Linked DNA regions of Homo sapiens. The protein of the gene in region 2 interacts with the protein of the main gene of each other region in a pairwise test. Each region holds a gene or a part of one and is shown on either strand. Other genes may lie near its edges.

What was found.
Region 1: the proteins of ZP3 (region 2) and MICALL1 interact in a two-hybrid assay, tested with the Homo sapiens proteins (one study listed by BioGRID and IntAct).
Region 3: the proteins of ZP3 (region 2) and PCDH17 interact in a two-hybrid assay, tested with the Homo sapiens proteins (one study listed by BioGRID and IntAct).
Region 4: the proteins of ZP3 (region 2) and UBAP2L interact in a two-hybrid assay, tested with the Homo sapiens proteins (one study listed by BioGRID and IntAct).

Annotation. Positions count from the first base shown.
Region 1 is NC_000022.11:37,909,282-37,916,315, forward strand, and holds part of MICALL1 (MICAL-like protein 1), read left to right. Parts: intron 1-2,670; coding exon 2,671-2,719; intron 2,720-3,069; coding exon 3,070-3,211; intron 3,212-7,034. UniProt on the Homo sapiens protein: Lipid-binding protein with higher affinity for phosphatidic acid, a lipid enriched in recycling endosome membranes. On endosome membranes, acts as a downstream effector of Rab proteins recruiting cytosolic proteins to regulate membrane tubulation.
Region 2 is NC_000007.14:76,434,919-76,441,952, forward strand, and holds part of ZP3 (zona pellucida sperm-binding protein 3 isoform 1 precursor), read left to right. Parts: intron 1-5,331; coding exon 5,332-5,423; intron 5,424-5,556; coding exon 5,557-5,693; intron 5,694-6,923; coding exon 6,924-7,034. UniProt on the Homo sapiens protein: Component of the zona pellucida, an extracellular matrix surrounding oocytes which mediates sperm binding, induction of the acrosome reaction and prevents post-fertilization polyspermy.
Region 3 is NC_000013.11:57,725,718-57,729,819, reverse strand, and holds the end of PCDH17 (protocadherin-17 precursor), read right to left. Parts: 3' UTR 509-4,102; downstream 1-508. UniProt on the Homo sapiens protein: Potential calcium-dependent cell-adhesion protein.
Region 4 is NC_000001.11:154,251,953-154,258,986, forward strand, and holds part of UBAP2L (ubiquitin-associated protein 2-like), read left to right. Parts: intron 1-1,947; coding exon 1,948-2,137; intron 2,138-2,883; coding exon 2,884-2,938; intron 2,939-3,199; coding exon 3,200-3,374; intron 3,375-3,730; coding exon 3,731-3,803; intron 3,804-5,110; coding exon 5,111-5,306; intron 5,307-5,393; coding exon 5,394-5,482; intron 5,483-7,024; coding exon 7,025-7,034. UniProt on the Homo sapiens protein: Recruits the ubiquitination machinery to RNA polymerase II for polyubiquitination, removal and degradation, when the transcription-coupled nucleotide excision repair (TC-NER) machinery fails to resolve DNA damage.

The DNA.
Region 1 (7,034 bases), on a different chromosome or scaffold from region 2:
GACCTCAGGTGATCCGCCTGCCTCGGCCTCCCAAAGTGCTGGGATTACAGGCGTGAGCCACCATGCCTGGCCGAGCCACGTAGGTTTTTTTTTTTGAGACGGAGTCTCGCTCTGTCAGCCAAGCTGGAGTGCAGTGGCATGATCTCTGCTCACTGCAAGCTCCACCTCTTGGGTTCACGCCATTCTCCTGCCTTAGCCTCCCGAGTAGCTGGGACTACAGGTGCCCGCCACCATGCCTGGCTAATTTGTTGTATTTTTAGCAGAGACGGGGTTTCACTGTGTTAGTCAGGATGGTCTCAATCTCCTGACCTCGTGATCCACCTGCCTTGGCCTCCCAAAGTGCTGGGATTATAGGTGTGAGCCACCGCGCCTGGCCAACCACGTAGGTTTTAAGCAAGGGAGGGATGTGGCTGGAAAAAATGTGCAGGGGAGGGTGGCTCCGCTTCTGAGATCCAGAATCATGTCCAGGCATTCATTTGCAATATTGCCAGCGCATTGCACAGGAGAGAAGCTGAGGCCCAGGTCCCACATAATGTGTAGGGAAGTCCTCAGTGATGGGTTGGGAGGATCTCCGTGAGAATAGGAGTGGCCTAGAGTGAGGGCAAGAATCATCTCCTAAATTGGTTCAGGCTTCTGGGGCTGTGGGCCCTGCCTGGGTGAACCCAGTGTTGGCCCAGGGCTCTGCTGGGACGAGGGTTGTGGGGGCTGGGCCATCCCTCCGCACCACCCGAAATCCAGACATGCTTAAGCTCCTTTGAGGGCGTGGACCATGTGGGTTTCATTTCTGTGTCCTTCATCTTCCCCAGAGCCAAGTAGAACTCCGCAGGCCTCTGAAGACTCTCAGAAAATATATGTGTTACCAAAACACAGATGTTAATTAGGGACAGAGATGGGGGTGGAAGAAAACCTGCAGGATCCTGAAGGTTTTTTACAGTTTTCACACTGTTTTCAACATTGATTCATTCAACAAACATTTACGGAGCATCTTCGAAATTTGGGGAACTGTGTAGGGAGTTGGGGGCACAGAGTAGCTAGAATGTGACCCCAGCCTTCTTGGAACACTTCTGGGGTGACCGAAATAAACGGCTGAGACAAGTTGCTTTTGTCTCATTTGGTCTTGGAAAAAGCCTCTGTTGGGGGCTGGGTACCATGGTGTTTTCCTCGCCCTGTTGCAGTGTCCTGAACCGGACCGGGAGACAGAGGTTTCGAGAGGTGAAACACCTTGCTAAGGTCGCACTCTGAGGCAGTGGCAGAAAAGGGGAGCTAGGGAGGCAGCCCAGGGGAGAAGGAAGTGGCCTGGTCAGAGTGGCAAAAAGGGAGCTGGTGCCCAGACATAGTCACCTTGCCTCTCCCCGTCCACCCAGCCCTGGGGCACCAGACCCCTTCCAAGGTCCTCAAGCAACTCTTTCCTGCCCAGGGTTCACAGTCCCTGGCCCCTGCCTGGAAAAGTGTTGGGGGCAGGAGGAGGGGGCTGTGCTTACCTGGCTCCCTCATATCTGCGAGGCCTGCCCTTTACCAAGCTGGGACTCCACCAGCTTGGGAGGTGGTATTAGTGCTTTTCCTGATTTGCACATGGGACAATGAATGCTGGAAGGACTGCTGATCCCCCCAACCCCATGGTCACATGGGAATTCAGCCCTCAGAGGCGGCGTGGCCTGCTCTTGCCTCTGCCCACCCATCTCCGGCAGTCAGGGCTGCAGTTTTCAGCCATAGAAGGGCAAGGCTGCATGCGGATGCACCCAGGAGGCTGCCCGGCGGGAAGACTGAGCTGTCTCTGCTGGTTTCAGCGGCCTGGAGTGGGGAGGGAGGAGGGGGATAAATAAAGCCTGCAGGCCAGCCAGCTGTCCCGTGCTGGGGCCCCCAGACAGGCCCTGCCACCTCTCACCTTTCCTAGTTTAGAAAATCCCTCACTGCTTCCCCAATGGAGGCTGCCCCAGGAGTGGCCCAGTGGGGCCAACCAGCTGTTCTATGCCAGCAGCTCCGGAGTATGTACATTTCCACTCTGGTTCAAACTTGTTCTTCTATTCACGGCCCCATTAAGAAAAACATTCATCTGCAGGCTGGACCGGGTTGGGATGCAGCAAGTTGGTGTGGCTACTCCGAGTGTGTGACACACCTGCAGGGGCCTGTGAGCAGTGGGAGGGCCAGACATGTGGATTCCCAGGGCTGGTGGCTTCCTTTCTCCAGGCCTCAGTGTCCTCATCTATAAAATGAGATCAATTCTTGCCAAACAGAGTTGCTGTGAAAAGAAAGTAAATGAGACAGAGGAGCCCAGCACTGCGCCCTGGGGGAGGTCACATGCGGGTCTTAGTTATGTCTTTGCCACGGACTCCAGGGGTGGCTTCCTGCAGAGAGGCAAAGGATCTTAAGCTTGAAAGCCTGGGCTTGAGCCTCACCCCTTCCCAGTGATTTCCTAGCCTCTGCTTGGATGCCTCCAGGGCCCGTGATCTCATGCCCTGCCCTGCCCTGGCAGCTCCAGCTCTAGCAGCGAATGTTTGCTGCCTCAGTTTCCCCCTTAGTAATCCACAGACTCCCCCCCAGCAACCCTGCTGAGGTTGATGCTGGCTGGGACAAGGTCTTCTCTGTTCAGCTCCTTTCTGACTCTGACCCCGCCCCTATTTCCCAGTCACCTCCCCTCTTGACCAACCCTCCTCCCTTTGCCTCTTGCAGAGATTTTGATTCGCTTTCCAAGGACAATGTCTTCGAGAATAACCGTTTGGTAAGTTCCCGGACAGGTGGAAGCCCAAGAGGCTCTGTGTATGTGTGTGTGTGTGTGTGTGTGTTTGGTGGGGAGGGCAGGGGTCTTGCACGGTGGCTGCCCTTGTACACCGGCCCTGGCTGCACCTTTCCCCACCCTCTGCTTCCCACCAGCCTCCTCATGCATGGAGCACCAGGCTTCCCCTTTCTCCAGGCCATCCTGTGGTGCTTGGGTGGGATTAATACTGAGGGGAGCCCACAGTCACCCCATCCCACTGAAGGGAGCTGGGCCTAGGCTGAGGGGTCGCCCCCTAACGCCTCCTCCTCTTCCTGCTTCGGCTGCTCCCGCCCTTGTACCTGTCACCACCCCAGGCCTTTGAAGTGGCTGAGAAGGAGCTGGGGATCCCCGCTCTCCTGGACCCCAATGACATGGTCTCCATGAGCGTCCCTGACTGCCTCAGCATCATGACCTATGTGTCCCAGTATTACAACCACTTCTGCAGTCCTGGCCAAGGTGAGAGGGGGACTCAGCGTTTCACGGAGGCTGGCCCAGGGGGTGGCCCTGGGGATGTCTGATGCTTGCTACTGGTTTTCTGAGTTGTAAACAGGCTGCTGAGGAGTGTGTCATTCATTTACTTATTCATTAATTCACTCATTGAAATATTTCTTTTTTTTTTTGAGACAGAGTTTCGCTCTTTTTTTTTTTGAGATGGAGTCTTGCCCTGTCACCCAGGCTGGATTGCGATGGCACGATCTCGGCTCACTGCAACCTCCGCCTCCTGGGTTTAACCTCCTGCCTCAGACTCCCAAGTAGCTGGGATTACAGGCACCCGGCACCACGCCCGGCTAATTTTTTGTGTCTTTAGTAGAGACAGGGTTTCACTATGTTGGCCAGGCTGGTCTCAAACTCTTGACCTCGTGATCTGCCCGCCTTGGCCTCCCCAAGTGCTGGGATTACAGGCGTGAGCCACTGTGCCCAGTCCCACTTTTTTTTTTTTTTTGAGACGGAGTTTCACTCTTGTTGCACAGGCTAGAGTGCAATGGCACGATCTTGTCTCACTGCAACCTCCGCTTCCTGAGTTTAAGCAATTCTCCTGTCTCAGCCTCCTGAGTAGCTGGGATTACAGGCACCCACCACTACACCTGGCTAATTTTTGGTATTTTTAGTAGAGATGAGGTTTCACCATGTTGGCCAGGCTGGTCTTGAACTCCTGACCTCAGGTGATCTGCCCGCCTCAGCCTCCAAAAGTGCTGGGACTACAGACGTGAGCCACTGGTGCCCGGCCTGACATATATCTTGAGTAAAAGAGCCTGTGCTGGGCTCTGGGGATGCAGCTGTGAATGTAATCACTGCTGAAGTCCCGTGGGGGAGATAGACACCAAACACACCCACCAGAAAATGAACACAATCATATCAGAGGAGACACAGCAGGTTGCGTTCATCCGCTGCATGGAGTCCACCTCCCCGGCACCCACCCTCACTTCCTGTTTGCAGACACTTCCTTGGGTTTTTCCTCCAGCAGGGAAGTGGCTCTGTCTGGTGAGGCTGCTGTGCTGTCTTCCACAGAAGTGACTGAGAGCTGAGAGGCTGGGGAACTGGGGAACCAGAGTTGCAGGGGCTACAAAGTGACTCGGTTCTGAGTGAGGTCACTGGGCATTCCCATGCAAGGACCTCCCTTGCAGGTAGCTGGGCCTCCCCTTCTGCAGAGATGAGATAGGCCTAGAGAGGGGAAGCAAGGAGCTCAAGATCACACAGCAGACAAACTGAACAGCTGGGTTGAGAATCCAGGTGTCCTGAATCCAACGCTGGATTCCTGCTGTCCCTGGGTCTGAGTAGAGCCCATTTCAGCCCCTCCCTCCTGCCTCTGCTGTCGGTCTAGACAGTTCTGGCCCAACTCTTTTTTTTTTTTTTTTGATACAGAGTTTTGCTCTTGTTGCCTAGGCTGGAGTGCGATGGCGCGATCTCGGCTTACTGCAACCTCTGCCCTCGGGGTTCAAGTGATTCTCCTGCTTCAGCCTCCTGAGTAGCTGGGATTACAGGCATGCACCAACATGTCCGGCTAATTTTTGTATTTTTAGTAGAGATGGGGTTTCGCCACTTTGGCCAGGCTGGTCTCAAACTCCTGACCTCAGGCGATCCACCTGCCTCGGCCTCCCAAAGTGGTAGGATTACAGGCATGAGCCACTGCGCCCGGCCCTGGCCCAACTCTTTAAAGTGTTTTATGAAGTCAGAGGTTTCTTTTCTTTTCTTTCTTTTTTTTTTTTGAAATGGAGTTTCACTCTTCTTGCCCAGGCTGGAGTGCAATGGCGCGGTCTCAGCTCACTGCAACCTCTACCTCCCGGGTTCAAGCGATTCTCCTGTTTTAGCCTCCCAAGTAGCTGGGATTACAGGCACCCGCCACCACACCCGGCTAATTTTTGTAGTTTTAGTAGAGACGGGGTTTCACCATGTTGGCCAGGCTGGTCTCGAATTCCTGACCTCAGGTGATCCACCCACCTCAGCCTCCCAAAGTGCTGGGATTACAGGCATGAGCCACTGCACCCAGCCATCTTTTCTTTCATTATATATATATATGTATATATATACATGCATATACATATATATGTACATATATTATGTGTATATATGCGTGCGCGCACACACACACACACGCACATATATGTGTATTTTTTTTGAGACAGGGTTTTACTCTGTTGTGTTGCCTAGGCTGGAGTGCAGTGGCATGATCACAGCTCAATGCGTCCTCAACCTTCCTGGGCTGCGGTGATCCTCCTATCTCAGCCTACTGAGAAGCTGGGACTACTGGTGCATGCAACCACACCCAGCTAACTTTTATATTTTTTGTAGAGGTGGAGTATCACCATGTTACCCAGGTTGGTCTTGAACTCCTAAGCTCAAGGGATCTACCCTTCTCGGCCTCCCAAAGTGCTGGGATTACAGGCATGAGCCACTATGCCCAGCCATAAATAAATAACTTTAGGAAAAAAAGAAAAAATAGCCGGGTGAAGTGGCTCATGCCTGTAATCCCAGCACTTTGGGAGGCCGAGGCAGGTGGATTGCTGTTGAGACCAGACTGGGCAACATAGCAAGAACCTGTCTCTACCAAAATAAAAATAAAAAAATTAACCAGGCATAGTGGTGGCACACCTGTAGTCCTAGCTACATGGGAGGTTGAGATGGGAGGTTTGCTTGAGGCCAGGAGTTTGAGGCTGCGGTGAGCTATGATCACGCCAGTGCACTGCAGCCTGGGCAACAGAGCGAGACCCCATCCCTAAACAGAAAAAATAAACAAGAAAATTTAGAACATGGCAAAAGCAGAAAAATTAAAATAATGTCTTATACCCCTTCCCCCTGATGTAACACTAGGGATTAAAATAATTGAACAAATAACATTATGTATATTTTAATAGAAAACAAAATGAAAGTATTTCCAGACCCCAGAGGCTCTGGTGAGAGGCAGTCTAAGGTTGGGGTTAAGAGCATGGACTCAAAATTTTCACTCTGCCATTTCCTCTTTGGGTGACCATGGGTCAGTTATTTAACCACTCTGCCTCAGTTTCCCTTTTGCAGTGAGGATAGGAATAACACCCATCTCACAGGGTTGACTTGAGGAGTAAATGAGGAAATGTATAAACCAGTGTTTGGCACCTATTTAGATTAGTATTCTTTTTTTTTTTTTTTTTTGAGACAGAGTCTCGCTGTGTCATCCAGGCTGGAGCTCAGTGGCACAACCTTGGCAGACTGCAGCCTCTGCCTCCCATGTTCAAGCGATTCTCATGCCTCAGTCTCCCAAGTAGCTGGGATTACAGGTGCGCACCACCACGCCTGGCTTAATTTTTGTATTTTTAGTAGAGATAGGGTTTCACTATGATGGCCGGTCTGGTCTGGGATTTCTGACCTCAAGTGATCCACCCACCTTGGCCTCCCAAAGTGCTGGGATTACAGGTGTGAGCCACTGCGCCCAGCCAAGATTAGTATTCTTACTACTTCTTATTTCACTGATTAGCGTTTAGCTGGATTCCTTAGAATCGCAATTCAGCCTTAGCCTGCGGCCTTCCTTGTGGCCAAACCTGAATCTCTCTCTACTGAGCTCATCTCTGGGACTCTGCGGGGTGGGTGGGGTGTGGGCAGCTGTTGGTGGTACGCAGCTCATTCGTTGGCCCTCTCTGGGCAGCCTGGTGGGCAGGGGCAGCCCTGGTGGGCACAGCTTACCGTGCTGAGTGTGGGCATGGGCACTCCCTCGCCCTGCAGGGATTCTCATTGATAAAGGTACAGTTTGTGGCAGACAGTCCTTTGTTATGCTGCCTGTATTTTCAGCCTCGCAATGTATTTTCAT
Region 2 (7,034 bases):
TCAAATTGACACTAAGAGGGAAGGAGAAGGAAGGAATGAAGATGGGAACTGCCTAATGGCTGAGGTGGGGGAGGGATGCAGTAGGAAGTGCAGGTGCAAGGACCAACATCTAGCCGGGAAGTACTGGTAAGTGGTTAGAAGTAAATTGCCTGGTGCGGTGGCTCGTGCCCATAATCCCAGCACTTTGGGAGGCTGAGGCGGGCAGATCACGAGGTCAGGAGATTGAGACCATCCTGGTTAACACGGTGAAACCCCCTCTACTAAAAATACAAAAAATTAGCTGGGCATGATGGTGGGCACCTGTAGTCCCAGCCACTCCAGGTTCCCAGGTGCAAGTGATTCTCCTGCCTCAGTCTCCCAAGTAGCTGGGAGTACAGGTACCCGCCACCATGCCTGGCTAATTTTTTTGTATTTCTAGTAGAGACAAGGTTTTACCATGTTGTCCAGGCTGGTCCCAAACTCCTGACCTCAGGTGATCCGCCTGCCTCGGTCTCCCAAAGTGCTGGAATTACAGGCGTGAGCCACCATGCCCAGCCTCAAGTAGCTTTTAAACAAGCTCACTGAGATGAGAGGTGAGGCGGTGAGCTTAGAATAGGTGGTTAGGAAGTGATTAAAGTAGGGGTTTCCAGTGCTGGCTCTATACTAATCATCTGGAGAGGTTGTAAAAATACTGATTGTAGAGAGTCTCATACCTTCACTCTATTGGGGTAGGGCATGGTGTCACATTTTGTAACATTAACTAAATCTTCATAGGTGTTTGCTGTAAAACTCCATGAACTTCAGTGTGCACACCATCTAGGTTCTACCACCAGCATTTTTTTTTTTTTTTTGAGACAGTCTCACTCTGTCACCCAAGCTGGAATGCAATGGTGCGGTCTTGGCTCACTGCAACCTCTGCCTCCGGGTGCAAGCAATTCTGCCTCAGCCTCCTGAGTAGCTGGGATTGTAGGCGCCTGCCACCATGCCCGGCTAATCCTTGTATTTCTTAGTAGAGACAGGGATTCATCATTTTGGCCAGGCTGGTCTTGAACTCTTGACCTCATTATCCAACCGCCTCAGCTTCCCAAAGTGCTGGGATTATAGGCATGAACCACCACGCGCCCCCCGCCCCCTTTTTTTTTTTTTTTTTTTTTTTTTTTTTTTTTTTTTTTTTTTTTGAGAGGGTCTCTGTCACCCAGGCTGGAGTACAGTGGCCCAATCTTAGGTCACTGCAACTTCCACCTCCCAGGCTCAAGCGATTCTCCTGCCTTAGCCTCCCAAGTAGCTGAGATTGTAGGCATACGCCACTACTGAGTGCCTGTTATATTTTTAGTAGAGATGGTTTCACCATATTGGCCAGGCTGGTCTTGAATACCCGACCTCAAACGATCCACCTGCCTTGGCCTCCCAAAGTGCTGGGATTACAGGCGTGAGCCACTGTACCCGGCCTGCTAGCATTTTACTGTTATCCTCCATCTACTGACCTACCTTATTCTACTTGGAAATGCATCAAAAGCCACTTAAGCTCCTAGGTGACTCTAATACGCAGCCAGGCTTGCAAACCTCTGAAGCAGAGGCTCATACGTCAGGGTGGCATTAAGGGACAAAGTAGAAACTTTTCAAAGATGACATCGATGCCACTTCACCTCCTCCAGCAGCTGCCTTGTGGGAAGAGAAAGATCAACACACAGATCAGTAGGGTAGCAAAAGGGAAAAGCATCTAATATTGATGAGATGGCCTGAAGCTCTCAGTGGTGGGCCCTGCTTCAGTGGGGCTGGGGATAAAGGAGGGCAGATTTGGGAAAAGAGTCCTGGCCCTCGGATCAGTGACCGATAGCTCCTTAGGGGAGAGGATCCTGGTTGTGGGAGGAAGTCAAGATTGACCTCAGGTGTGGCCATTTGGGAAGAAGATGGAGAGAAGTTTTCACAGAGGTGGTAGCGGTCAGCATGGGTATGGACTGAGGTGGTTTCTCAATCTCTGGGGGTTGAGGGGTAACTAAGACCAGAGAACAGTGCTGTTTAATGGAAGATAGTCTGAGCCCTTGGAGGGCCCCCCTTCAAAGGTAGGATTGATGATGCCTCAGTAGACTATGTCCCATGGCACAAAGAAGGAACAACCCTATTTCAGAGCAATAGGGTGGCTGGGCACGGTGGTTCACATCTGTAATCCCAGCACCTTGGGAGGCCGAGGTGGGAGGATCAGAGTTCAGGTGTTTAAGGCTGCAGTGAGCTATGATGGTGCTATTGCCCTCAACAGAGCAAGACCCTGTGTACTTTTTTTTTTTTTTTTTTTTTTTGGACAGAGTCTCGCTCTGTCACCCAGGCTGGAATGCAATGGCATGATCTCGGTTCACTGCAACCTCCACCTCCTTATTCAAGCCATTCTCCTGCCTCAGCCTCCCTAATAGTTGGAATTATAGGCACTCAATCACCACGCCTGGCTAATTTTTGAATATTTAGTAGAGATGGGGTTTCACTATGTTGGTCAGGCTGGTCTTAAACTCCTGACCTCAGGTGATCCACCTGCCTCAGCAAGTGCTGGGATTACAGGCATGAGCTATCACACTCCCCTCTTTTTTTTTTTTTTTTTGTTTTTTTTTGGGGGGAAATGGAGTGTCACTCTTGTTGCCCAGGCTAGAGTGCAATGGCGTAATCTCAGCTCACTGCAACTTCCCATCTCCCAGGTTCAAGCAATTCTTCCATTCCAGCCTCCCAAGTAGCTGGGATTATAGGCACCTGCCACCATGCCCAGCTAATTTCTGTATTTTTTTTTTTTTTTTTAGTAGAGATGGGGTTTCACCATGTTGGCCAGGCTGGTCTCAAACTCCTGACCTCAGGTGATCCACTGACCTCAGCCTCCCAAAGTGCTGGGATTACAGGCATGAGCCACCACGCCCAGCCTAGACCCTGCTTCTAAAAGGCCGCTATAGGGGAACTGCCCTGGGATCTTAGACTCCAGTTAGCACCAGAAAAACATACTAGGAAAAAGCTAAGGATGAAAGTACATTTCCTTTGTGGAATAGACAACAGGGCCTTGGAAGCTTCTTACTTGCAGGGCAGGTGGCTAAGATGGGCAGCTGGACAACTGCTAAACTGGCTTGTTTCTAAAAGTCTGAATTTACATGGTTTCAAGTTTCTCTGCTGGTGTACTTGGCCACTAGGTGGTGACTGAGGCTTGTGGCTCTGAGGCTTCTGCTGGAAGGTGGCAGAATTGCCATGCTCTGCCCGAGGTTGAGCAGGGAGGAATTTTAGCCCTGCCTGAAATATGAAGGGAAACTGACCTGGGGACGGGCCAAGGCTAGACTGAGCCCTGGCTCTGTCAGAATGGCCCCTAGCCCCAGCAGCAGGATGGAATGTCAGTCTAAAATGAGAAGGCTTGGCCAGGTACGGTGGCTCATGCCAATAATCCCAGCACTTTGTGAGGCCAAGGCAGGTGGATCACTTGAGGCCAGGAGTTCAAGACAAGCCTGGCCAACATGGGGAAACCCCATCTCTACTACAAATACAAAAACTAGCCTGGTGTGGTGGTGGGTACCCGTAATCCCATCTACTTGGGAGGCTGAGGCAAGAGAATCGCTTAAACCTCGGAGGTAGTGGCTACAGTGTACTCCAGCCTGGACTAGAGACAGACTCCGTCTCAGAAAAAAAAAAAAAAAAAAAGGGTAGCGGGGCAGTGCTTACAGGGTAGTTGACTATTCCCTGGGTGGTGGGGGGTCTTTCAGCTCCCAGCAGGAGCTCATATTGGGTTCATTCCCTCGTACTTGTCTAACGAGGGTGGGTAAACGTTTCCCAGAGGCCAGGACTGTCAGGGTATCAGCCTGGTGAGTCTTCTGGTCGTCATATCCCTTACAGGTGAAGGGAGACTGACGTAGGCTTGACTAATAGCAGAGGTATGTGCAAGGAAGAAAAGCCCAGGGAAGCTTGCCCAAAGAGTGAGCCATCAAACTCAAGTCTGGCCGGGCGCAGTGGCTCACGCCTGTAATCCCAGCACTTTGGGAGGCCAAGGCAGGTGGATCACAAGGTCAGGAGTTCAAGACCAGCCTGGCCAAGATGGTGAAACCCTGTCTCTACTAAAAATACAAAAAAATTAGCGAGGCATTATGGCAAGTGCCTGTAATCCCAGCTACTTGGGAGGCTGAGGCAGGAGAATTGCTTGAACCTAGGAGGCAGAGGTTGCAGTGAGCTGAGATCGTGCCATTGCACTCCAGCCTAGGCAACAGCAAGACTCCACCTCAAAAAAAAAAAAAAAAAAAACCTCTTAAGTCTGAAATGGAAACTCCACAGAAGCAAGTCCAAAAGGCTTCTTTATGTGCCCAAGGACCTCAGGTCCCAGAAACAACTTGGTCTTGCCTTAGCTGGCAATACAGTGACTACATCCCTGAAGAAAAGTAGCTTGTCAACTAGTCAAGTGGCAGGTGGCAGCGTCAGAAGCCCAGCTAAGCTGCTAGCTATTAAGGTGTCTACCACTCACCTCGGTCACCTGGGGATGGGCGCGGGTTTAGCAATGCTGAGTTAAGCCCAGGACTGGCCAGGCACGGATAGCTGGCACCTGTAATCCCAGTACTTTGGGAGGCTGAGGCGGACAGATCACTTGAGCCCAGGAGTTTGAGGCCAGCTTGGGCAACATGGCAAAACCTCATCTCTGCAAAAAATCCAAAATTAGCCAGGTGTAGTGGCTTGTACCCGTAATTCCAGCTGCTCATGAGGCTGAGGTGGGAGGATCCCTTGAGCCCAGGAGGTCAAGGCTATAGTGAGGCATCATCATACCACTGTACTCCAGCCTGGGTGACAGGCCCTGTCTCAGAAGCCCAGGGTCAAGCATGCTCAATGATTGGGTAAGTTTGGAAAAGATCAGGGGAATAAGTGGTGGATTCCAGTCTAAAACTAGTTGCTACTTGCTCTAACATTGGGTAAGTGAACCTTTACACCATCTTAGAGATGAGGCTCTTCCTTCCCCCTGTTTATTTTATGAGACAGTCTCACTCTGTCAGCCAGGCTGGGGTGCAGTGGCATGATCTCGGCTCACTGCAACTTCTGCCTCCCAGGTTCCAGTGATTCTCCTGCCTCAGCCTTCCAGGTAGCTGGGACTACAGGTACCCACCACCACGCCCAGCTAACTTTGTATTTTTAGTAGCGATGGGGTTTCACCATGTTGGCCAGGTTGGTCTCGAACTCCTGACCTCAGGTGATCTACCCGCCTTGGGCTCCCAAAGTGCTGGGATTATAGGTGTGTGCCAATGCACCCGGCCCCTTCTCACTCTTTAAAGGGTTGAGGGTTATAAGAGAACTGGTGTGTTAAACTCCCAGGCACAGCCTGGAACTCGGCCTGGAAATAGCTGTTATTCCTTGCAGATATACATCACCTGCCACCTGAAGGTCACCCTAGCTGAGCAGGACCCAGATGAACTCAACAAGGCCTGTTCCTTCAGCAAGCCTTCCAACAGGTGAGGAGGACAGGTGCTCCGTGACTGGAGTAGAAACTGAATCGGCGACCCCTTGTCTATTTCCCCCAATATATTATCAGCAAACTGCTTCCTGCAGGCAACAAAAATCTAAGCTGCTTCTCTTTCATCTCAGCTGGTTCCCAGTGGAAGGCTCGGCTGACATCTGTCAATGCTGTAACAAAGGTGACTGTGGCACTCCAAGCCATTCCAGGAGGCAGCCTCATGTCATGAGCCAGTGGTCCAGGTCTGCTTCCCGTAACCGCAGGCATGGTATGTCACAGAATGGCCAAGAGGCTGTTCATTGTCCCTTACTCAGTTGAGGGTACCTGCTGTCATTTCAGGGTGATGGTATTTTCCCTTGTCCTCCATTAAAACTGTTTGTACCTAGGCCTGCAGCTACCTTTCCCTAACACAAATCTTGGGGTTAAGCAGGAGGGGCTCTCAGCCTTCCACCTCGGTGGCAGCCAGGGAGATCTGCTGTCATCCTAGGCTTCTACTGAGACATAATTAGGCATGTAGGGGAAATATAGCAGTTGTTAAGATAATCTGGCTTGGCATAGTGGCTCAGGCCTGTAATCCCAGCACTTCGGGAGGCCAAGGCGGGCAGGTCACCTGAGGTCAGGAGTTCGAGACCAGCCTGACCAACATGGAGAAACCCCATCTCTACTAAAAATAAAAAATTAGCTGGGCGTGGTGGTACATGCCTGTAATCCCAGCTACTTGGGAGGCTGAGGCAGGAGAATCACTTGAATCTGGGAGGCAGAGGTTGCAGTGAGCCGAGATTGCACCATTGTACTCCAGCCTGGGCAACAAGAGTAAAACTGTCTCTCAAAAAAAAAATAATAATCTGGCCAGAACAGTGGGTTGTGCCTATAATCCTAGCACTTGGGGAGGCTGAGGCCAGGGAAATCGCTTGAGCCCCATGAGTTCTCGACCAGCCTGGGCAACATAGCAAGACCCTGTCTCTACAAAAAAGATGATGTACTAGGGAATCCCTCTTGGGTGACCTGCTTTCTCCGTATGAGAAAGCTGTCTTTTTCTTTTTTCTTCCCCCTCCCCTGCACCAAGATGGTGTCTAGCTCTGTCCTCCAGGCTGGAGAGCAATGGCACGATCTCTGCTCACTGAAACCTCTACCTCCCAGGTTCAAGCTATTCTCCTGCCTCAGCCTCCCAAGTAGCTGAGACTACAGGCATGTGCCACCATGCCCAGTTAACTTTTTTATTTTCAGTAGAGACGGGTCTTGCCGTGTTGGCCAGGCTGGTCTCAAACACCTGACCTCAGGTGATCTGCCTGCCTCAGCCTCCCAAAGTGCTGGGATTACAGGCATTAGCCATCACACCTGGCCGAGAAAGCTGTGTTTTTTTTGTCTAGAAACTGTTTATTAGCCCACACAAAAAAGACAACATATTAGTTTAGCCCACTGAGGCAGAATAAAACCTCCAACCCAGTTCCCGGTTAGGGACTAAGATAACCCTTGGTTGTGTGTTCTCCTTTCACAGTGACAGAAGAAGCAGATGTCACCGTGGGGCCACTGATCTTCCTGGACAGGAGGGGTGACCATGAAGTAGAGCAGTGGGCTTTGCCTTCTGACACCTCAGTGGTGCTGCTGG
Region 3 (4,102 bases), on a different chromosome or scaffold from region 2:
ATACCATTTATACATATTGTATATATTGGATTCTGTACTATCTGGAGTTTCAGGCATTTACTAGGGGTCTCAGAACGTTTCCCCTGCGGATGAGAGAGGACTATTCTATTTGCTTTCATTAGTCATGTAAGATTATGACAGAGCTTATAAATGTACTTTTCTGAAATCCTCTGAGATCTTATGCCAAATTCTCTTTATATTAATTGTAAATATTTAAAACCACAAATATTATTAGGCTATGACCCTTTGGTAATTATTTAACTAGCCAATTTATCTAAGCTATGTGAAAGATTGTTAATCCACTTCTATTGAGAAACTAGTGATACTATCAAGTAATTTTTGTTTAAAAAAGTCTTATTTTAATGGCAAGCAGATAACTAGCAAAATGAGCTGTGATGCCACAGTTTGCTTTTCCAAAATAATTATGATCAGGGTCCCTGTGATATGCACAGGGAAGTGTGTAACACATCCCTTCTGGGTTAATGAATTCAAGGGAAGGCAACACCACTATTAGTAATAGCTTTTTATTCGGAGTCCTCATTTTCCAGATAGATCACATTAAACACAGCCATTAAACAATAGCGTTGAGATAAATCCATACAATGTATGCTGCTTTTGTTGTTGTCCTTGTTCACCAATCACTTGGTGCAGCTAAGAACTTTATGGAGTGATGGGCTGATAATGGAAATAGCCAACCTGCAAAACACTGGGGCCAGGAAAGTCAGACTTTAATCAGGTCTCATTCAATAATATTTAGAATCAACACATCTTGATAGCCAAAACTCTCATTCGAATTAGTGCTCTGATGAATGCTGTCTGTTGTCAAAAGAATATAATTAGACTATTATGACTGGGCATATATTATGCCAGACCTGTCTATCTGTTGACCTCAGTAACTTTTACTCTATTAGATAACAAACAGCTTTTAACCTGGTTCTAAAAAAGCATATGCTCTATTACTACATGACTTTTTTATGGTGCCATATTTTAAATTGAACAATATCTAGATCCTTTAAAGGGAAGTCATGTTTTACAAGATTTCAGCTAATTTTGGAAAACAAAACAAGTTAGTTTCTCAACCAGGAATTCAATTAACCTATGGAGTAGTGAGCCAATCTTTGTATATTGCCTGCAATAAAGTTAGAAATGTCAGGTTAAGAAATAGCATGAAAGAATTCTTTGAAATTGCATGATATGTCTCTTTAATGTTTACTTTGGTATACGTATAACTAACAGATTCTCACTACTTTTAACTCTGATGAAAAGGTTATTTTGTTGCTTTTTTTTTTTTTTTTTTTTTTTAGCTCATCTGCAAGCAATTTTTAGAAGTTTGGGTTTCTTACTGAAATTTCCATGAAGTGATTTTTTTTTCTGTGCTTAACTTCAGTTACTTAAAGACCTAAAAGACAAAGTGGTATCACATCACATATTTTGTATGTGTGGGCTTTTTTGAGGGGTTAGTACTTGAAAGATATGAATTGATATTTTTTTCACATTCTAAATTATGTTAAAACCCCTTCAAATCTCACTGTTTGCTCATGCATCACCTATTAGAGCAAGGTGCTCTCTAAAGGTGTGATTTTGGCATCTCATAGGCTTCCTTGAAAGCCAAGCACCAGAGGTCTGCAATAAAGGCAGTTGCCAGCTAAATGAATAAAAGCGAGATTTCCTCAATTCAACTATAAAAGCTTAGAGTCCTGACTGCTGAATTACCACCAACTTGTAAATAAATAATCACTACTAAATACAGATAATGTGTTAAACAGCTAACACTAGTAAATCACTGGTGACAGAGAGCCTAAAGGTAAATCCCTCACACATTGGCACAACCAATTATTACAACCTTATGGTGTTTTAATGTCCTCAGACACATATAATAAATTGAACAACTGGTTACTTAGCATTAAGAATGTTTATAAAATAAACCCTACTCTCTTTGCTGGTTTCATTTACATACTGCTTTAGATTTTACTAAGTGGATATCTGTCTAGTAAGAGAGAAGCAACACTTGGTAAGACTAAATGGAAATCAGTTTTCCATCAAATTTCAGCTATCAAGCTAAATCAACCTGTAGTCTCCTGGCAAAAATAACATCATATAACAGAGACAACACATTTCAGATACATAAATTGTCCAAAATATAGAGAGTCAATTAGGTTTCACATGTACAAGGTCCCTTCTTTTCTAATTTAAACATTTATGAGTAATAAAAACCAAGAGTAGAGCTTTGGAAAGGCTGTTACTAGGAACCAAAATATAGTTCTCAAGAGAATAAGGCTGATGGGAGTTGTCCACTCTTCCCTCTCAAAGCAGTTTTGCAAACGAGGTACAGTCTAAAATATTGATGGCATTTGGCGGAAATATTTTCAGTAGAAGTTTTTAAAGTTTAAAATTACAAAACTTAATTTAATTCAATGTTTGTTTTTGCTTTTGTTTTTGTTTTAAATATAAGAATTTTTATGACATTTTTGCTGTTTCTACACTGGCTTGGTGGCCAGAAGAGAAGGCACAAAATTATCCACCAGTTTGCAAATAATGCATTTTTCTGCTCCAGTGCTCAAACAGCCTTTATTTAACTCAGCACCACATTTTCTAAGGTATGGGCACAAAACTGTTTGTCATGAAGCTGTAAAATGCCAAAAATTTTAAATGCTGAAAGAAAATGTCAATCAAGGCATTTTCCCATCTGCTGCTACTTCTGCAAGTGCTAATTTTATTTTTCCCAATTCCTGAAATTTGAGGTTTCTTAGCCTCATATGGAAGTAAGTTTGAAACTCGCTAAATGTCACAAGGAAAGGTGTAACCAAATGAAGGAATAGAAGGTGTATTGTTCTCAAAGGACACCAACAAAAAGAGGCAGAAGAGCACTGAGATAAAGGAAAACATTTTGTTAAGACCCAGACCTCTTGAAAAACACTACACAATGCAAGTAACCACTGCTGGTACATACATGCATTAAAGCATTTTTCATGTTTTCAAAATATAATGGGAACACACATCTGAAGCACTTAAAATACTTTTGAGAACCAACTGATGGCATAATATCTACACAGGCAGAAGCTGTATGTTATTGAAAAAACATGAAGAAGTTTCAGATATTGGTACAAATGTCAATTCTTGTGATTTAGCATGACTTTAATAAAAGCTTCTACAAGGACTTGCACATAACCATGACTGATGGATGTAATTTTTGACCTTTCAGTTAGCTCCATCAGCTCACTCAAACACATTTTGAACAGATTATGTACTGTAGTACTTGGTAGACTATACATTAAACAAGAGACTTTGCTCTGAGGCACTGCTTCCCACACTCCATGGGGAAAAGGAAGCAGGAAAAAACAAAACTCATAGAGTTCGACAGCTACCAAGGCAACACTTGCCATTTACAATATAAGCCCAAATATTTTTGCAACACAACTATATATTAATTTAATAAAATACACAATATAGCTCTTACACACTCAACAATTTGGCTCATATGCACTGAATCTGCAATAAATCAATAAAATATGTCATTTGATGTAAACACATTGAATCTTCTTACATTTGCACATTTAAATGGTCATGTGACTTGCGTATGTCTAAGACATTTTCACTTTCCTGAGCTATTTTAGTGTCCACAAATGAATAAAACATATTAATCAAGTTAATTTTCTCTGAATCTTACCACTCAATGGTAACTATTTTTTAGAACTTTTCTATGTCAAATTTAAAACATATTCATCATTGTTTAAATCTTTGTTGGACACTAAAATGCTAAATAGGCATTTTAAATCTTTAAGTTTTCTTCTTCTTTAATGACGTGAATTAGTCTACGTGTGTGCAGGACAAAATGGACTGTATCTTTTTACATTTAACTTTTATATGACATGAGATGTCTTACAAATGACCAAAGGTTTTTTTTTTGTTTTTGTTTTCGACTAATGATATGGAATGTTCCTTGTGTTTATATGTGTGTCAGGTAACTTTATACAGAAATGTTTACCACAAATATGTGTTAATGTTTGGTGTAGCTTGGACTACTGCAAGGTCTTTTCAGGACTTTCAGTAGAAGCCTGTGATGACTGCTAGAAATCCACCACAGATCACAAATTATGACCCT
Region 4 (7,034 bases), on a different chromosome or scaffold from region 2:
ATAATGAGTCCCTGTCTCTACAAAAAAAATTTTTTTTTAAACACAGAGTTTCACTCTGTTGCTTAGGCTGGAATGCAGTGGTGCGATCTCGGCTTACTGCAACCTCTGCCACCCGGGTTCAAGCGATTCTCCTGCCTCAGCCTCCCGAGTAGCTGGGATTACAGGTGCCCACCACCATAACCAGCAAATTTTTGTATTTTTTAGTAGAGATGGTGTTTTACCATGTTGGCCAGGCTGGTCTAGAACTCATGACCTCAAGCGATCTACCCACCTCGGCCTCCCAAAGTGCTGGGATTACAGGGGTGAGCAACCGTGCCCAGCCCAGATTTTTTTTTTTTTTTTTTTTTTAGATGGAGTTTTGCTCTGTTGCCAGGCTGGAGTGCAGTGGTGTGATCTCGGCTCACTGTAACCTCTGCCTCCCAGGTTCTAGCAATTCTCCTGCCTCAGCTTCCTGAGTAGCTGAGATTACTGGAATGTGCCACCACATCCGGCTAATTTTTGTATTTTTAGTAGAGACAGGGTTTCACCATGTTGGCCAGGCTGGTCTTGAACTCCTGACCTCGGGTGATCTGCCCTCCTCGGCCTCCCAAAGGACTGGGATTACAGTCATGAGGCACCACGCCTGGCTCAGAGTTTTGCTCTTGTTGCCCAGGCTGAAGTGCAATGGTGCAATCTCCGCTCACTGCAACCTCTGCCTCCCAGGTTTAAGCAATTCTCCTGCCTCAGCCTCCCTAGTAGCTGGAATTACAGGCATGCACCACCATGCCCAGCTAATTTTGTATTTTTAGTAGACATGGGGTTTCACCATGTTGTTCAGGCCAGTCTTGAACTCCTGAATGGAGATGATCTGCCCACCTTGGCCTCCAAAAGTGCTGGGATTACAGGCGTGAGCCACCACACCCGGCCCAAATCTTATATGGTTCTTGAGGGAGCCTAGAATTCAGAATTCTCTAAAATGAGTGTGAACAAAAGATGGCTTTTCCTGTGCTTAGGGTCCATGTTATAATGTATAGAAGGGGCCAAGAGTAATGTATCCTGTATACCGACATTTAGCCACTTTTTTATTTTGAGACAGAGTCTTGCTCTTGTCACACAGGCTGGAGTGCAATGGCACGATCTCAGCTCACTGCAACCTCTGCCTCCCAGGTTCAAGTGATTCTCCTGCCTCAGCCTCCTGAGTAGCTGGGATTACAGGCGCCCACCACCATGCCTGGCTATTTTTTGTATTTTTAGTAGAGACAAGGTTTCGCCATGTTGGCCAGGCTGGTCTCGATCTCCTGACCTTGTAATCTGCCCACCTTGGCTTCCCAAAGTGCTGGGATTACAGGCATGAGCCACGGCTTCCGGGTCCACTTTTTCTTATAACAGCAAAATGTAGGGGGGAGCCAAGGGACTTTTCTCTTCCTTGAAGACTTGAAGATGTTTTTAAGATTTTTTTTTTTTTTTTTTTGAGATGGAGTCTCGCTCTGTCACCCAGGCTGGAGTGCAGTGGCTTGATCTCGGCTCACTGCAAGCTGCGCCTCCCGGGTTCATGCCAGTCTCCTGCCTACTCCCAAGTAGCTGGGACTACAGGTGCCCGCCACCATGCCCGGCTAATTTTTTTGTATTTTTAGTAGAGACCATGTTAGCCAGGATGGTCTTGATCTCCTGACCTCGTGATCCGCCCGCCTCGACCTTCCAAAGTGCTGGGATTACAGGCGTGAGCCACTGCGCCCGGCCTAGATGTTTTTTTAAGATTAATTCTTAATTCAGATCTCTGGCGCTATAGAAGGTAGGGATTCCTAGTGTTATCAGGAGGAAATTTTGGTAGATTCTTCTATTTGTTGCTGAAAAATTTCTTCTTGATTCAAATCAAGTTATTCCACTAGTAGATCTCCACGATTTCCTTAGTATGAGTAGATATGCTCTATTTTGTTTCTCTGAGATTTTTCTCTTCGTTACTCACAGTGAATCATCCTCTACAATTTCATCTAACCAGAGTCAGGAGTCTGGTTATCAGAGCGGCCCAATTCAGTCGACAACCTATACCTCCCAAAATAATGCTCAGGGCCCTCTTTATGAACAGAGATCCACACAGACTCGGCGGTACCCCAGCTCCATCTCTTCATCACCCCAAAAGGACCTGACTCAGGCAAAGGTAGTGGCTTCATGAACCCTTGGGAATTGGTTAGGAGAATAGTGGGCAAAAATTCCTTAAATATTAGTGTTTTACTTTTCAGCAAGTGGTGCTAAGAAACTTTGGAAGTAGTGATTGAGAATTTGAAAAAGGCACACATCTGTGGCTAGTGAATTAAAAGTTCTTATCAGCAAACCCGGAGACTGAAGAGCCAGGAAACCATTCTCTTTGTACTAAAAATTCATTGCCTCTAGTAGAATCAGTCTCAAGTGCCTGTCCTGTCTTCTGGGAAGATGTGATTGCCAGATTTCTGGGTGCGTGTCAGTAGACCTCACCTTGCTAAGTCCTGGCATGGTGAGGGAGACAGCATGTGCCAGAGGTGATGTGGAGTGAGTGTCAGATGCAGCCAGCGGAATAGGTGGTGTGGCTGAACTGTTGTACTTACCCTTCCCCAAAAATCACTGGATGTGGACTTTGGGCCTTTCCTCTATCTGTTTTAGGTTTGGGGTGTCTTCAACAATTTGTAGGGTTTCCTTCTTTTGCTTTTGGTCACACAGTGTTGGTATATCTCAGTTTTGTTGTTTAATTTTTGTTCCTATTTTGGTTTTTTGGATAGTCTACATTGTATTAATATTAATCCTTTTGGTTAATTTACAGAGTTTCTCCTAAAGATTTGTTGACCAAAATAAAGCTGCATCAGTGCTAACTTTCCTCATTCACATGAGTTTGTCTGTTTCTTGCTCTTCTGTTTTTTTTTTTTTTACCAGAATGGCTTCAGTTCTGTGCAGGCCACGCAGTTACAGACCACACAATCTGTTGAAGGTGAGTGTTCTTCAGGCTTTTCCCCTCCTAAGTTTCTGGTTTTCTATCTTAAAATGGTGATAATCCATTAGTTCCCTTCACTGGACAATTGAGACCCATGCTGTGTAATTCTCAGCATTAAAGAAAAAAGATTCTACCTAATATAGTCCATTGTTAAATAACTCATCCTTTTGTCTTTGGAACTGCCTTGGACTGTGGTCACCTCTCTATAGACATTCCCTTTTTTCTGATGAGAGGAATTCCTTTCTTCTAAATTTCTAGGTGCTACAGGCTCTGCAGTGAAATCTGATTCACCTTCCACTTCTAGCATCCCCCCTCTCAATGAAACGGTATCTGCAGCTTCCTTACTGACGACAACCAATCAGCATTCATCCTCCTTGGGTGGCTTGAGCCACAGTGAGGAGATTCCAAATACTACCACCACACAACACAGCAGGTGATTTGGGGTGAGGATGGAGGTTGGGGTTGGTGAATAGCAATAACAGAGCTCTCTGGTCCTTATTACTCCCTTGACCTGGCAGAGACCACATTAGCCCTGCTTTTGTCGTAAGTGGGTGACCTAAGAACTGTGGGAAGTGAAGACAGAGGAGGCTTGTTTTAATTTTCCCCTTTCAACATCCACTTTTGCTTTAACTGCTCTCTACCCCTGGCTGGCCATTGTGCTTAACATATGATCTCAGACCTCCTTGGTGTCCCATATTATGTCTTATTTCCTTGTTATGTTCTTGACTGAAGCTCCAGGTCACGTAACTATAGCACTATGGCTGATGGCAGCCTCTTTTTTTCTGACAGCACGTTATCTACGCAGCAGAATACCCTTTCATCATCAACATCTTCTGGGCGCACTTCGACATCCACTCTTTTGGTAAGTGTGATGCTGAGAGGGATGTGTGGTTTTCTTACACTTAGAACTGTCCAACTGTAAGATTGTCCCAAGAGAGAATTATTGAAAATTTCTTCATGAGGTGGCAAAATAATTGATTTGAGGTTGCAGGAAAAGGAGTAAAGGGATGTTAGGAAGCCAAGAGAGGCAGAAGAATCCCTAAACATTGAGCTCTGGGTCATTCCTAAAAGCCCTGAAAGTGACTTTCTGATTTTTTTCCCCTACTGAATATATAGTTGGGCTTTGTATGCTTTAATAAATTCTGGAAGAACATACCTTTCCAACTGGTAGAGCTGTTCTCTTTCCTTGGTCTTGGGTATGCCCAAGTTCTGAAAAGAATCAGTGCAAGGCTGGACATTTTTGTGAAAGTAGATGCCAGGTGAGAGCTTTTGGTCCAAGAGTCAATTTTATTGTTTTGATTTGTAACAACTATTAATAGAATTAAGCTGAGCCTGTAAAGGGAAGGACCCATTTTGGACAAAAGTATCAGATTTGCCGGAAGCCTGGGGAGGTATGAGGGCTAAGGCTCCTTTAGGAGTCTCTATTCAAATACACAGTTTCAGATTTAAAGTCAGAATTGTGGACAGGTGCAGTGGCTCACCTCTGTAATCCCAACACTTTGGGAGGCCAAGGCAGGAGGATTGCTTGAGCCCAGGAGTTTGAGACCAACCTGAGCAATATAGTGAGACCTCATCTCCATAAAAATTTTTTGAAGATTGGCCAAGCATGGTGGTACATTCGTAGAGTCCTAGCTACTCGGGAGGCTGAAGTGGAAGGACTGTTTGAGCCCAGGAGGCCAGGGTTGCAGTGAGCCAAGATTGCACCACTGCACCCCAGCCTGGGCAACAGGATGGGACCCTGTCTCAAAAAAAATGTAAAATCAGAATTTTTGCTTTTTCCTAGTCCACAAACTGGTCTCAACTAGTAAAGAAAAGTTGGGGAGAGAAAGCTGTGATATATTTTTTACATCTCAACTCTCTCTGTTCCTTTATCAGCCAGTGTTAGTCTCTGGGGAATCTGTCTCCATTTGCTTTACTGTCTTTCTGAACAGGATGATGATGTGCAGTGAGTCTGTTACCATTCTTGCCAGATGAGTCTTGAGGAATATGTAGCTGGAGATTATTTCTAACTACTTTAGCAGGGTGTACTTTGGTACCTTGCCTACTTGGCCTCTTTAATTAGGAAGTTGACATCATAATATATTCAGCAGGAGGGATTGTCTTATTTTTCCTGACCTATGATGCTGATCTCTTTTCTTCTTCTCTCTTCCACTGCTCCCCCTTTTGAAGCACACAAGTGTGGAGAGTGAGGCGAATCTCCATTCTTCCTCCAGCACTTTTTCCACCACATCCAGCACAGTCTCTGCACCTCCCCCAGTGGTCAGTGTCTCCTCCAGTCTCAATAGTGGCAGTAGCCTGGGCCTCAGCCTAGGCAGCAACTCCACTGTCACAGCCTCGACTCGAAGCTCAGTTGCTACGACTTCAGGTAGCCTTGCATAAGCAGATGGCATTCCTCTGGGATGGAGGAGGTAAGTAATTGTGTGATGGGATAAAAATGTAATTTCTCTTTTAGGAAAAGCTCCTCCCAACCTCCCTCCTGGGGTCCCGCCGTTGTTGCCTAATCCGTATATTATGGCTCCAGGGCTGTTACATGCCTACCCGGTAAGTGGGACTAAAGGATCTTCTTCAAAAGGTGAGGATGTTGTGGCTACTCTTTTTATAGCTCTGGCTTCAGATGGACCCCTGTGAATACCAAAACTTGCACATACTCAAGCCCTGCAGTTGGCTCTGTGGAATCCATGTATATGAGTTTTGCATTCTGTAAATGTGGCCGTATTTTTGATCTGTGTGTCTGGTTGGAAAAAATTCATATATAAACAGCGTGCAGTTCAAACCTGTGTTAAGGGTCAACTGTAATTAAAATATAAAATAAATGAGGGATTGCCACATGTAATCAAACTGGTTTTTAATCTTTGCAGTTTTGGAAAAAATACTAAACTGAGGCCAACCCATCTATTGTGTATCTGCTTTGGTTTATGGTGCACACATGTATGCATGTGTGTGTGTGCGTACAATGTGTATGTATATGTGTGATGAGAATATCTGCCCTGTTTGAAACACAGCTTCTGGGCCTCAGAAGCCAAAGGCCAGAATGTTCATCTGGAATCCTTTTTGGTTTCTTAGATAATTATGACTATTATTTTATTTTTTGAGGCAGATCTTGCTCTTTTACCCAGGTTGGAGTACAGTGGAACGATCATAGCTAGCTCACTGCAGCCTTGAACTCCTGGGCTCAAGCAATCCTCTCACCTCAGACTCCCCAAGTAGCTAGGACTACAGGTGTGCATCCCCATGCCTGGCTAAGTTTTAAAAATTTTTTTAGAGACAGGGTCTTCCTATGTTGCCTAGGCTGGTCTCAAAATCCCAGGTTCAGACAGTCCTCCTGCCTCAGCCTCTCAAATAACTGGGGTTATATATAGGCCTGAGCCACTACTCCTGGCCCCAAGAATTATTTTCTCTGATTTGATTAAATCCCTAACTCTGAGTGTGTTTGCTGGTCTGGCCTGGTTAGAGGAAAGTTTCCTGACTCAATCTGGGACTTTGAGAATAAGTGGCTGACATTAGTAGCTTTTTGCCCTAGTGTATCTTCTGTGACCTTCAAGTATTTGGTACCTATTAAGATGAAGGATATATGGAAACGTTTTAGAAGATACCTGTTCCTGCCCTCATAGACAAAGTCTAGATAAATTTCATACCGATGACACATCCAAATAACACAGTTACACATTTTTAATTTGTGGTCACTACCTTAAAACCCTGACATTGGAGAAAAGTGAAGTATTCTTTCCAGAGGAGATTATTTTTAAGCCAGATTTTGAAGAGTATAAGAGACAGAGACTTGTAGAATAGAGAGTAAAACTGGTTGTTCGTGTATGTTTTGTGTCTACTCTATTGGTATCAAGAAGCCAGCCTACTAGAATCAGTAGTATTTAGCTCAAGGAAAGCTTCAAGACCTTTCATGAATCATTTAATCTCTGTGTACTTTACTGCTTTTTCCTTAAATAAAATTGAAGGAAATAATCCGTGTCCTGTTCTAACCCAGAATGAGGATGAATGTTCTGTTGAATTAGCTTGTCTCTTGGCTCCTTGTTTTGCTAACATCATGACCAGTTCCTGTTATTGCTATATGTCTGTATCTTTCAGCCACAAGTAT